Linked DNA regions of Homo sapiens. The protein of the gene in region 3 purifies or fractionates together with the protein of the main gene of each other region. This does not show direct contact. Each region holds a gene or a part of one and is shown on either strand. Other genes may lie near its edges. The genes, in order: CREB3L2, POMGNT2 and FAM83G.

The links.
Region 1: the proteins of FAM83G (region 3) and CREB3L2 purify together in Homo sapiens (co-immunoprecipitation; one large-scale study listed by IntAct). This does not show direct contact.
Region 2: the proteins of FAM83G (region 3) and POMGNT2 purify together in Homo sapiens (co-immunoprecipitation; one large-scale study listed by IntAct). This does not show direct contact.

Annotation. Positions count from the first base shown.
Region 1 is NC_000007.14:137,874,458-137,877,493, forward strand, and holds the end of CREB3L2 (cyclic AMP-responsive element-binding protein 3-like protein 2), read right to left. Parts: 3' UTR 522-3,036; downstream 1-521. UniProt on the Homo sapiens protein: Transcription factor involved in unfolded protein response (UPR).
Region 2 is NC_000003.12:43,078,556-43,082,133, forward strand, and holds the end of POMGNT2 (protein O-linked-mannose beta-1,4-N-acetylglucosaminyltransferase 2), read right to left. Parts: intron 2,982-3,578; 5' UTR 2,877-2,981; coding exon 1,134-2,876; 3' UTR 679-1,133; downstream 1-678. UniProt on the Homo sapiens protein: O-linked mannose beta-1,4-N-acetylglucosaminyltransferase that transfers UDP-N-acetyl-D-glucosamine to the 4-position of the mannose to generate N-acetyl-D-glucosamine-beta-1,4-O-D-mannosylprotein.
Region 3 is NC_000017.11:18,968,289-18,971,026, reverse strand, and holds the end of FAM83G (protein FAM83G), read left to right. Parts: coding exon of another isoform or gene 1-14; 3' UTR 15-1,604; coding exon of another isoform or gene 1,605-1,685; 3' UTR 1,686-1,869; coding exon of another isoform or gene 1,870-1,975; 3' UTR 1,976-2,238; downstream 2,239-2,738. Other genes in the region: sodium/mannose cotransporter SLC5A10, read right to left, coding at 1-14, 1,605-1,685, 1,870-1,975. UniProt on the Homo sapiens protein: Substrate for type I BMP receptor kinase involved in regulation of some target genes of the BMP signaling pathway. Also regulates the expression of several non-BMP target genes, suggesting a role in other signaling pathways.

The DNA.
Region 1 (3,036 bases), on a different chromosome or scaffold from region 3:
TACATTTGGATTCAGACATTGTAATGGAACGAAGATTACTCTGCTTGAGTGCACTGACCTTTATCAACCATTTCATCAGAATTTCTGGAGCATGAATCTGTTAGACATCCTCTGCAACTGTTCGTAGGAAGAAGGATCATTCCTTTCTGGCTCAAGTCCAAAGGATCTTTCTCAAGCAACCAGAGATGGGGAAAGCAAAATCAAATCCACAGACAGTTGAAATCTAGTTAGGGAATAGTTAGAGGAGACAATAAAAATAACAGTCATGCTGCATAAGTCTCTAGAGGATACTGTTTTTCTTCCCGTGGCTGCCTGAAAAAACAATTACATTCTCAATATTCCTCCAACTAAGGCTTGGATTCAGTCCTATATAACATACCAATTGCTGGTTTGAGGCTCTTCTTTCAGGCCAAGTAGATATCCAGGAAAGAACGGTTCGGCACACATACACAAACCCATGTTCATAAAAAAACAACATGCTTTTCAAATTAGTACCAAGATTATAAAGACTGGGCAACATCTTACTATTTAAGAAAAAATATTTATTTGCAAGAAATGGAAATACAAAAGCATAACAATTTCAATTTATTTTTTTTTCCCAAACTAAGTACAAGTGTCCTACAAAGCTTTTTTTTTTTTTTGGTATTTACTTAGCTATGATAAAGAATAAAAAGTCATTTAAAAAACGCGATAGGACAGATAACAGACTCACAACGTATTTAGATTTAAACACTGCTGGTCTACGTAACCTGTTACAAAAGAGAGCAAAACCTAACTGTCAGCATAGACATTAAAGCTCACCGTTGATTATAGCTCAGGGCCTGCTCAGCATTGTTTAAAAAGGGTCACTCACAGTTTTGTCAAAGAGTGCTGGTGTTCTCTATGAACTCATAAACTGTTTTATCTGAAAAGGTGATTTTCTAAGTAGTGTAAGCCATGGGTACATGGTGCAAAAAGTTCATGTTCTCACTCAGCTGGTGAGCGAAGGATGGGAGCAGAGAACAGAGCTAAAACCCCTGGTTTTCCTTTCCCCAGATGTAAAGCCTGCTAGCTGGAACTCACAGAAGATTGGAACAAAAAGATAGGAGATGGACACCTGGGGGACTGCTCCAGCACGAAGGGAAGCGATGAGCATCACACAGCAGGGCCATTGCAGGGGACAGGTGCTGTAATTCCTGCCCAGAGAACTTGAAAGCTTACAGTGTGCTCACAGGAAGGAATCGGCTCAGCTAGTCCAGAAATTGCTGCATTTCCCATATTACTTAGTTCTTTATTCATCCTGTGGTAAAGAGTCACCCTTGTTTTCCGTATCTATAAAACTGAAAGACTTAAAATTTACTTAGCACAGCACGCAACACCCTAGTAAATGCTCAAGAAATATTATTTCCCTTCCTTCTAGAAACCAAGGCTAAATAAAACATTCCTGAATTTTATGTTGTCCAAAATAACAAAACAAAACAACACCTAGTTTTTTCCTGTGTTAAGTGCTGACCCTTTGACCACAAAGGCATGGAACATTAATCTTCAAATGAGCCAGGTTCCTTTGCCCTGAGAAATGTTCCGCTATGAGGATTTATAATACCTTTAATCCTGGCTGGTTGTTTTTTTGATGTGATTGCACTCCTGCAAACTGGGATTTTCCTAATGGACGTAACCCTATTTCTTTTCTCCTGATGTGCAAATCTGATAGTGGCTCACTTTTAGGAAACCACTTTTGAGCCTTCAGAAAAAAATTTTTCCCCACACCCAACTCAATCTAATAATAAAAGAATATATACAAAATCTCCCAGTGACGAGGGATTCCTCAGTCATCCTGGATTTACCTATAAGGCACATTTAAGGCACAAATGAGCATGTAAGGGAGGAATGTGCACGTGTGTGTGTGTGTGTGTGTGTGTGTGTGTGTGTGTGTCAGAGAGAGAAGAAGGGAGAGAGAAGTATAAGCATTTGGGTCTTTTGAATAACTATTATTAATGTTTCCTCAATCCCTTCTATTCCCCAATATTCCCTAGGGCCTCAGGCAACACTCTTCCTTATGAAACTGAAAAGTCTTAGGAGTAACTGAATGAGTGAGTGAATGAACGAAACATCTAAGTCTTGTCTCTGGATCCTTCACAGCCCTCACGTCACCACCACCTACTCTCTCCTGTAACTGCCCTCCCAGCGGGGCCTATCCTAGCATGTGTCTATGGATAGTCTCACCTGAAGGTGGCCAAATAAAATGACTCTCAAGAGGGCACTACCTGCCCATGGCTTCACAGGTCCAGCCAGCCCAGCAAGCAGAAGTGCTGGTGTCTTTAACCCAGGTTTCTTAAAGACTGGCTTCAATAGAACCAACTGTAGTGACTTGGGGCAGAGGAAGGGGAGGATGAAGGTCTTCTAGTGCATCTCTGCCCTCTCCGTGTTGGCAAGGTTGGCATGAATGGGCCATTATTCAACTGGGGGTGGGATGTCTCCATTTCTGGACTGTGCTCAAATTCACACCTTGTATGACATGTGGGCAGAGGAGCTGGCCTGGAGAGGCCTCTAATTCTGCCTCTACGCTTTTGCTGGGTCTGAGGACATGGGAGGGAGGAGCCATAAAATGCTGGAGAACAATTTTAAAAAACACTTATGAAAAAATGCTGGACACTTGACTCACTGCCAGAACAAAGAAGAGCCAATTCAACATCCCAACTTTACGGGCACGTAAGATTCACAAGCTGAACCAAGAGATTTAGGAAGAAAAAAAAAAACATGGTAATTATAAGGGGTCTGTGAATAAGTTAAACTAAAAGCTGCTTTCACAATCTACAAATTAGGCCTCCAAATCAAAATCATTTATATTAACCAAAAGGTTATCTAATTTTGCCCATATTGGTGTCAAATCTCATCCCCACTCCCTGCCAAAAAAGAGCAACCTAGTTCAGCTGTCGGATTTTTATATAACACTCTCTTTATGTGAGCTAGACTCCAGAGTCCTCACACTTCACAGAAATTCTTTCTTAAAACTGGCACTGCAGCCTTTCATTTACAATATCCCTTTTTAAGTGCAAA
Region 2 (3,578 bases), on a different chromosome or scaffold from region 3:
CCAGACAAGCCAGTTAGCTGAATGTCAGGTACAGTATTAGGCCAAACTGCCCATGGGAGTTTTTGACCTCTGATTGATAAGCTACACCTGGGCTGGAAGGACAAAGAATAAGCTATACCATCTGGTAAGAAACCATGGCCTTAGGCTTCCCTAAGTGCAGAAACTCATAACTGGGCATGTCCCTTGAGGGACCCTGGGAACTCTGATTGTGGGTTGTTGAAAACACATTGACTCCTATGGGGCATGGGCTTCTGAATCAAGGTGGCCCTCAGGAGTACTGATGTAAGGACTGCTCCTGTGGAAGGGAACTGCTGACATGGCCCTGCTGGCATGCTGAGCATCTCTCTCCATCCTTCTAAGAAACTCTGATGCCAGGTATGATCTGTCCAGGTCTTGCGAGTCTTAATGTCTAGTTGAGCCCAAAAAAAAACCCATGGTGGATACAGCTCTTCCTCCCCTCAGCCCTCTCCTACCTACTTCTAGGCTTTTATCCCATGTAGGTGGAACTGTGATATTAGTCCAGCTAGTCAAGATGAAATCCAACCAGCTTGCTCACTTTGCCATCCTGGGCGCTTTCCCATTGCCACGTCTCCCTAGCTAACAATCAAGATTAAAGGGCACCTGGGTTTTGACGACCAGCTCCCCTTCCTCCCATCCAATAAGAAGACTTGACCAAGATGCTTAGAATCATTTAATGAATGTTCCAAACACACCCTTCACTGGGCTACAGGTAAATTTCACTGGGATGGAAGCAGATGAACCACCCAATCAAACAGTACATGATTACTCGGTTTCCAGAAATCTGGATACCAGAAAAACTCAGTAGGAAACATCAGGATCACCTAGCCAGAGGTTCCTTGTGATTCTTTGCTTCCTCCTCTCCTCTTCCTCCTCCCTGCTAAGGAACTTCTCCAGGGGTACAAATGTTCAGGATGGGAGAAGGGGAAGTCAGGTCCCTTATCTCTAGGGCAAAGAGGAGTGCTGTGACACCACACCCCAGAGACAACAAGATGATGTGGAGGCACAGGCCTGCTCAATAAATAGTTCCCAGAAGTCTCCACAGTGGGATTAATGGGCCCAGGGACGCTGAACTGCAGGAGCCACCTTCCCGAGGCCAGGCTGTGGCCTGCTCGCTACGTGTTGCACACCAGCACATCTGCAAAGGGTCCCAGGAGGATCTTGTTGAAGATGCAGCGGACCCACACCAGGTAGGTGGTGAAGGGCTTGATGTTCTCAGTGAAGGTGTGGTTCTGCAGAGCCAGGATGTAAGGCACGTAGGTGTTCTCCCCCTGCTCCTGCAGCCACACCTCGTACTTCACCTCCCTCACCTTCAGGTATTTAAGGTTCCATGGGATCTGCCAGGAGACAGTGAGGCGGGCCTCGGAGGCGCCATGCACTGACGCCTGGCACCGTGCCTCCCGCACCTTGCCTGGATATAGGCCGACTGTCCACTTCTGCTTCCGTGGTCCTGGCCGGCCCTTCACCACGCGCCGTATGGTTTGAATGAGGGACGGGATGTCCACCTTGGTGTCCTGGTAGATTCGGAAGAGCCACTCGGGGTTCCGGCAACAGAGATGCCGTGGGACCTCACGGCTTTGCAGGATACGGGCTTGCTCAGCCCGGTCCAGATGGGTGATGCCCCCCTGATCCCAGGGCCGCTCAGGGTGTGTGACTGTGTTCTCTGGCATCATGTTCCGCCAGGCTACATACTGGAGGTCCATGCCAGGCAGCATGGCCAGCGTCTTATAGGGAGTGTAGTGGTCGGGATTGACAGCATATGGGAAGAGCTCTACCACAGTTGCCCCACGGGGCAGGAAGAGGGTGGTGACCAGCTGGGCCCCATGCATGCTGACCAGCATGGAGGCATTGCTGACCAGCCGCACGACATCAGCAAAGGTGTGGTCCTCCAGGGACACTGTCACTGTCTTCATCTGGAACTCCTGGGCCAGTGCCAGCAGCAGCTCTGCCTCATTCAGAATGAGTCTGTTCTGGGTTCGGCTAAAGACCAGAATGTACTCCTCGCCTAGGGGGACTCCTGTGTGGCTCACGTTCAGCTTTTCTGTCATGAACCGTGCAAACTGCCGGATCTCATTGCCTGAGACGAGGATGTTGGCCTTCGGGCCCTGGGGCTGCACAAAGCCATACTGGTACCAGGTAGTGATCTTGGAGAGGCCCACAAAAGCATGGGAGAAGCACAGCAGCCGGCCCAGGGTCTTCAGCTGTGCCCGCAGGAGAGGCTGCTTGGGGCTGAGCAGCTTGTAGAGGTCGAAGTGTGCACCCTCGCCCCAGCCCTCCATGAAGAAGAGCCGTGCCTCGTGGGCCAGGCCGGGAAACTGCCGCAGGGTGTAGAAGAGTGGCAGCAGGTCGTCATGAAAGACGTGCATGAGGTTGTCGGGGTTGAAGCGGTTGGCGATGAGGGCCACGTCTGGCACGAACACCGGCTTGGGCATGAAGCGCAGGGCAGCAGCAGGCAGCTCCACGAAGTTGAAGTACTGAGTGTTGTGGTCCTCCACGGTGGATAGGTCGAGCAGGGCTGGCTGGAAGCGCCGGGAGCCCAGGTTGGGCAGCATGACAGAGGTGTTGCCATGGAAGAAGATGAACTCCTCAGCCTCGTTGGAGTAGCAGAGCCACTTGAAGCGGCAGATGCGGTCTGTGTGCGTGCGGCCCGTGCACACCATGTGTGTGCCGCCCTCCATCAGGATCTGCAGTGCCTTCGGGTAGTCGATCCTCAGTGCTGGGGCTGGCTCTGTGGCCTGTCGGCTGAGGGCCAGCTCCTCCTCCAGTGTGGCTGCATGCTCACGCAGCCGCACATGCTTCCACAGGACCGCTGCCAGCACCGACACCAGGAGGGCGTTGAACACCGCCGAGAGGTGCATCCTAATGCCACTGTGGGGCCCTAATGAGATGACGGCCACTGGGAAGCACCACAGGCCAGGCAGGCTTCACCCATCCCTATGGGCATCCTGAGAACTGGTGAAAGCCTGCAGGAGGAGAGAAGGAAAAGAAAAAGGAATTGGCAGTCTTCCTGGCATCATTACAAGCTCCTGCTATGTGCCAGGCACGGTAGCTAGGCTCTGTGTGCCCGCTACAGCACTGGATCCTTGCAGCCATTGTGCACATTGGTAGGCGTGGTAGATTAGACCATTGTTTAAAATATTCTCTCCCTCCCCATCGCCTCCATGTTGGAAAGTGCATCCCCACACCCGACTTTGGGCTTAGCCATTTAACTTGCTTTGGCCAGTGAGATGTCAGCAGACAGAACATAATCAAAGGTTTGGAAAGTGTTTGGGCTGGCCTTGCCCTCTTTATGACACTGCCATAAGAAGAATGTATTCAGGCTAACTTGCTGGCCCCAAGAGGAGCGAGATACGCATGAAGCAGAACTGCTCCGGCCATGCCCTGTTCTAGTTCAGCTGATCCCTCATGACTGAGTGGGCCCAGCCAAGAGCAGCAGTGCGATCAGCCAAACGCAGCCAAGATCAGCCAACACATAGACATCAGGGCTGAGCAACAGCTGATTAAACATCCCTGAAATTCTGGGGCTGTTTGTGATGAAGCACTGCTGCAGCAAAAGCTAA
Region 3 (2,738 bases):
GATCTGGTCAAAAGCTGGAGGGGTCAGGGTGGAACAGGGACAGTTTGGTGGTTGCGGGGCCCTGACTCCCTGGGCTCCCCCCTGCCTTCATCTCACAAGAAACTTCCTGATGCATCAAACTTGAGTTTTTTCCACCTCATCTTTCCCAGTGTTTGGAAAGGTGTGAGGGTAGAGGGTTGTTTTTTTTTTTAAGGTGTATTTGAATGACTATTTTATTCGTATTTAAAATAATACTATTAAGTAAGCATTTTGCACATGGGCACCCCAGTGTCCCGCTGGCCCAGCAGGAGTCACTGTTGGCCTCTGGACACTCATCGGCCTTGGGCAAGTGGTTCTCAGCCAGGTTTCCGATTGTCGATTCAAGGAAGCAAAAGTAATTTTTCTTGACATTTGAGGACCTTCCTGAGGCTTCTAAAGTGTTCATCCTGATCACCTGAAGGGTGTGATTTTAGCAGAGCTGAGAGTGGCTGGTGGTGATGTGGCCCCACCCCCTGAGGCACAGAGAAGAGGGAGACAGGTCCAGAGAGGGATGGGGCCTCCACCAAGACCATATAGACCATCTGGCGGGCTCAAGCCGGGGCTTTTTCCTCTCCAGTCCAAAACACCTCACTGTTCCTGTCTACCTCGGGGTCAGGGCCCGGCATGGCCAAGCCCTGGCCCATCTGTGTCTGTGTCACTCCCCTCCCTTCCAGACTGGGCCTGGCTGCTGGGATCCCTCTCATGCGGTGGGTCCCAGGGACACTAGAGCCCCTGGTCTGAGAGGGAGAAGCCTGGATGTAGGAAAACCCGTTTCCACCCCAGGCCCTACTCCCTAGCCTTTTCCAAGTGGGACATGGAAGAGGCAGCCTGCTGCCTGGATGCTGGTCTCCCCAGCATCACTGTTCCCATGGAGCTCAGGTCAGGCTCTGTATTCAGACCGAGGGTTTGTGTGAGGCTCAGAGCAAATGAACAAGTGCCATTCAAGGGTTAGAAACTGCTCAGCCACAGGGTCCCAGTGTCTGAGTCTGGAAGAGTCTTTAGAGATTTGTTCACTCTCTGAGGGATCCTCCTGGCTCTGCTTACATACTTCCAGGGACGGTGAGCTCACGCTCTCTCCGGGCAGCCCTGTGAGTTTCCTATCTGTTCCAGACTAGTATCGCCAATCTCTCCCAGCTCTCTTCTTTCCTCCCTGGCCTTTGTCCTGCAGGAGGTAGCATCACCTCTTGGCATTTTGTACATGCTTTTAAACAATTGGAGGAGCTGCCCAGGCAGTTTTATGGCCTCCTGGTTGTGTGCCTTCACACCCGCCTACAGCCCCACCTCACCATCAAGCGCTGAGCCAATGCGGGTGTGGCTGGCCCTGAGTTCCTGAGTCAGCTCCTTGCCAGGGCCAGAGCTGGTAACAGCGGGGCAGCAGGGTGGGTAGCCTCTACCAGCCAGGGCAGTCCCTGAGGGGCCAGCAGGGGGGCTGACTGCCTAGTGGCTCAACCTCCTGAACCCACCCACTCCCAGCGATGCTACCCAGAACCCCAACGGCATGAATCCTGCACAGTGCCGGGCAGTGCCAGACTCCAAAGGGCTCGCTGTGGGGACAGCCCCGCCATGGCCACAGACTCTGTCCTCACCTTTGATTGTCAGGATGACAGCCCCCACCACCATGATGAGCGTCTGCAGGGCGTCCGTGTAGATTACAGCAGCCAGGCCCCCTGCCAGTGGAAGCAAGGTTGCTGGAGGGGGCCCTGGCCCCAGGGAGGAGGGACACGGGGAGGAACTTCTGGGGCTCCTGCTGGGGCCACTTCCTGGGCTGCTCCCTCGGGCCTGTAGGGGGAGGTGGCCTTCTGACCCCTTTACACGTCCCCTGGGTGGACCTCCCTGCTGCAGGCACCATACCTGCGATGGTGTACAGGGCTGTGATGCCGAGCGTGAGGATGGTGGAGAGGTAGAAGTTCCAGCCCAGGCAGATGTGCACAAACAGAGCCCCCGCGTACAGGTCCAGCTGCGGAGGGAGAGAGCCTTGTGTGGGACTGTTATTCCCAGGGCTCCAGCAAGCCACTCCCTGGGTGACCTCGGGCAAGGCCCTCTCTGGGCCTCGGTGGCCTGTGGATAAGGAGGGGAGACCCCCACTCGCCTGCCTGCCTGCATCACGGGGCCATTGTGAGGTTGGGGGAAGACCTGGCCGTGGAGCTACAAGCTTGTGCGGATGTCAGGGGACATTACTGTTGCTAATAAAGTCCAAAGTGGCCAATGCCTTTCCCAAAAGCAGTGTTGTTATTGAATCTGGCCCCTTCCCGAGGGGATAAAAGGCAGAGCCCTGTCCCCTCGGTTCCCAGGGGCACCTTGATGAGTTTGTGAGGAGTCTGTGAAGACCAGTAGGCCTCAGGAAAAGTGTGTGCTGGGCGGACCAGTAGGCCTCAGGAAAAGTGTGTGCTGGGCGGACCAGGAAACAGAGGGGCAGCCTTGCTTCCTGCCCCCACCCCCCAGTGGGTTTGGAACTGAAGCCAATAGTGGCTCAGAGGCTGGGTCTCAGGCTGAAGCTGGTCTCCACACTGACTGGACACAGCCCCTGCCCTCCCAGAACCTGTGGCTGCTCCTCCTAAAGGCAGGAGCGCTAGCCTGGAGGCCAACCTCTGCCTGGCATGGGCCTCAAAGACCAGAATCCCACCCTCCACCTGGCAGTAGGGGCCCAGTGAGAGGAAGGGCAGGACCCTGTTCTCTGGGACATGGGCTAGTAACAGGCTTCACCTTGCCCCACCCCTGAG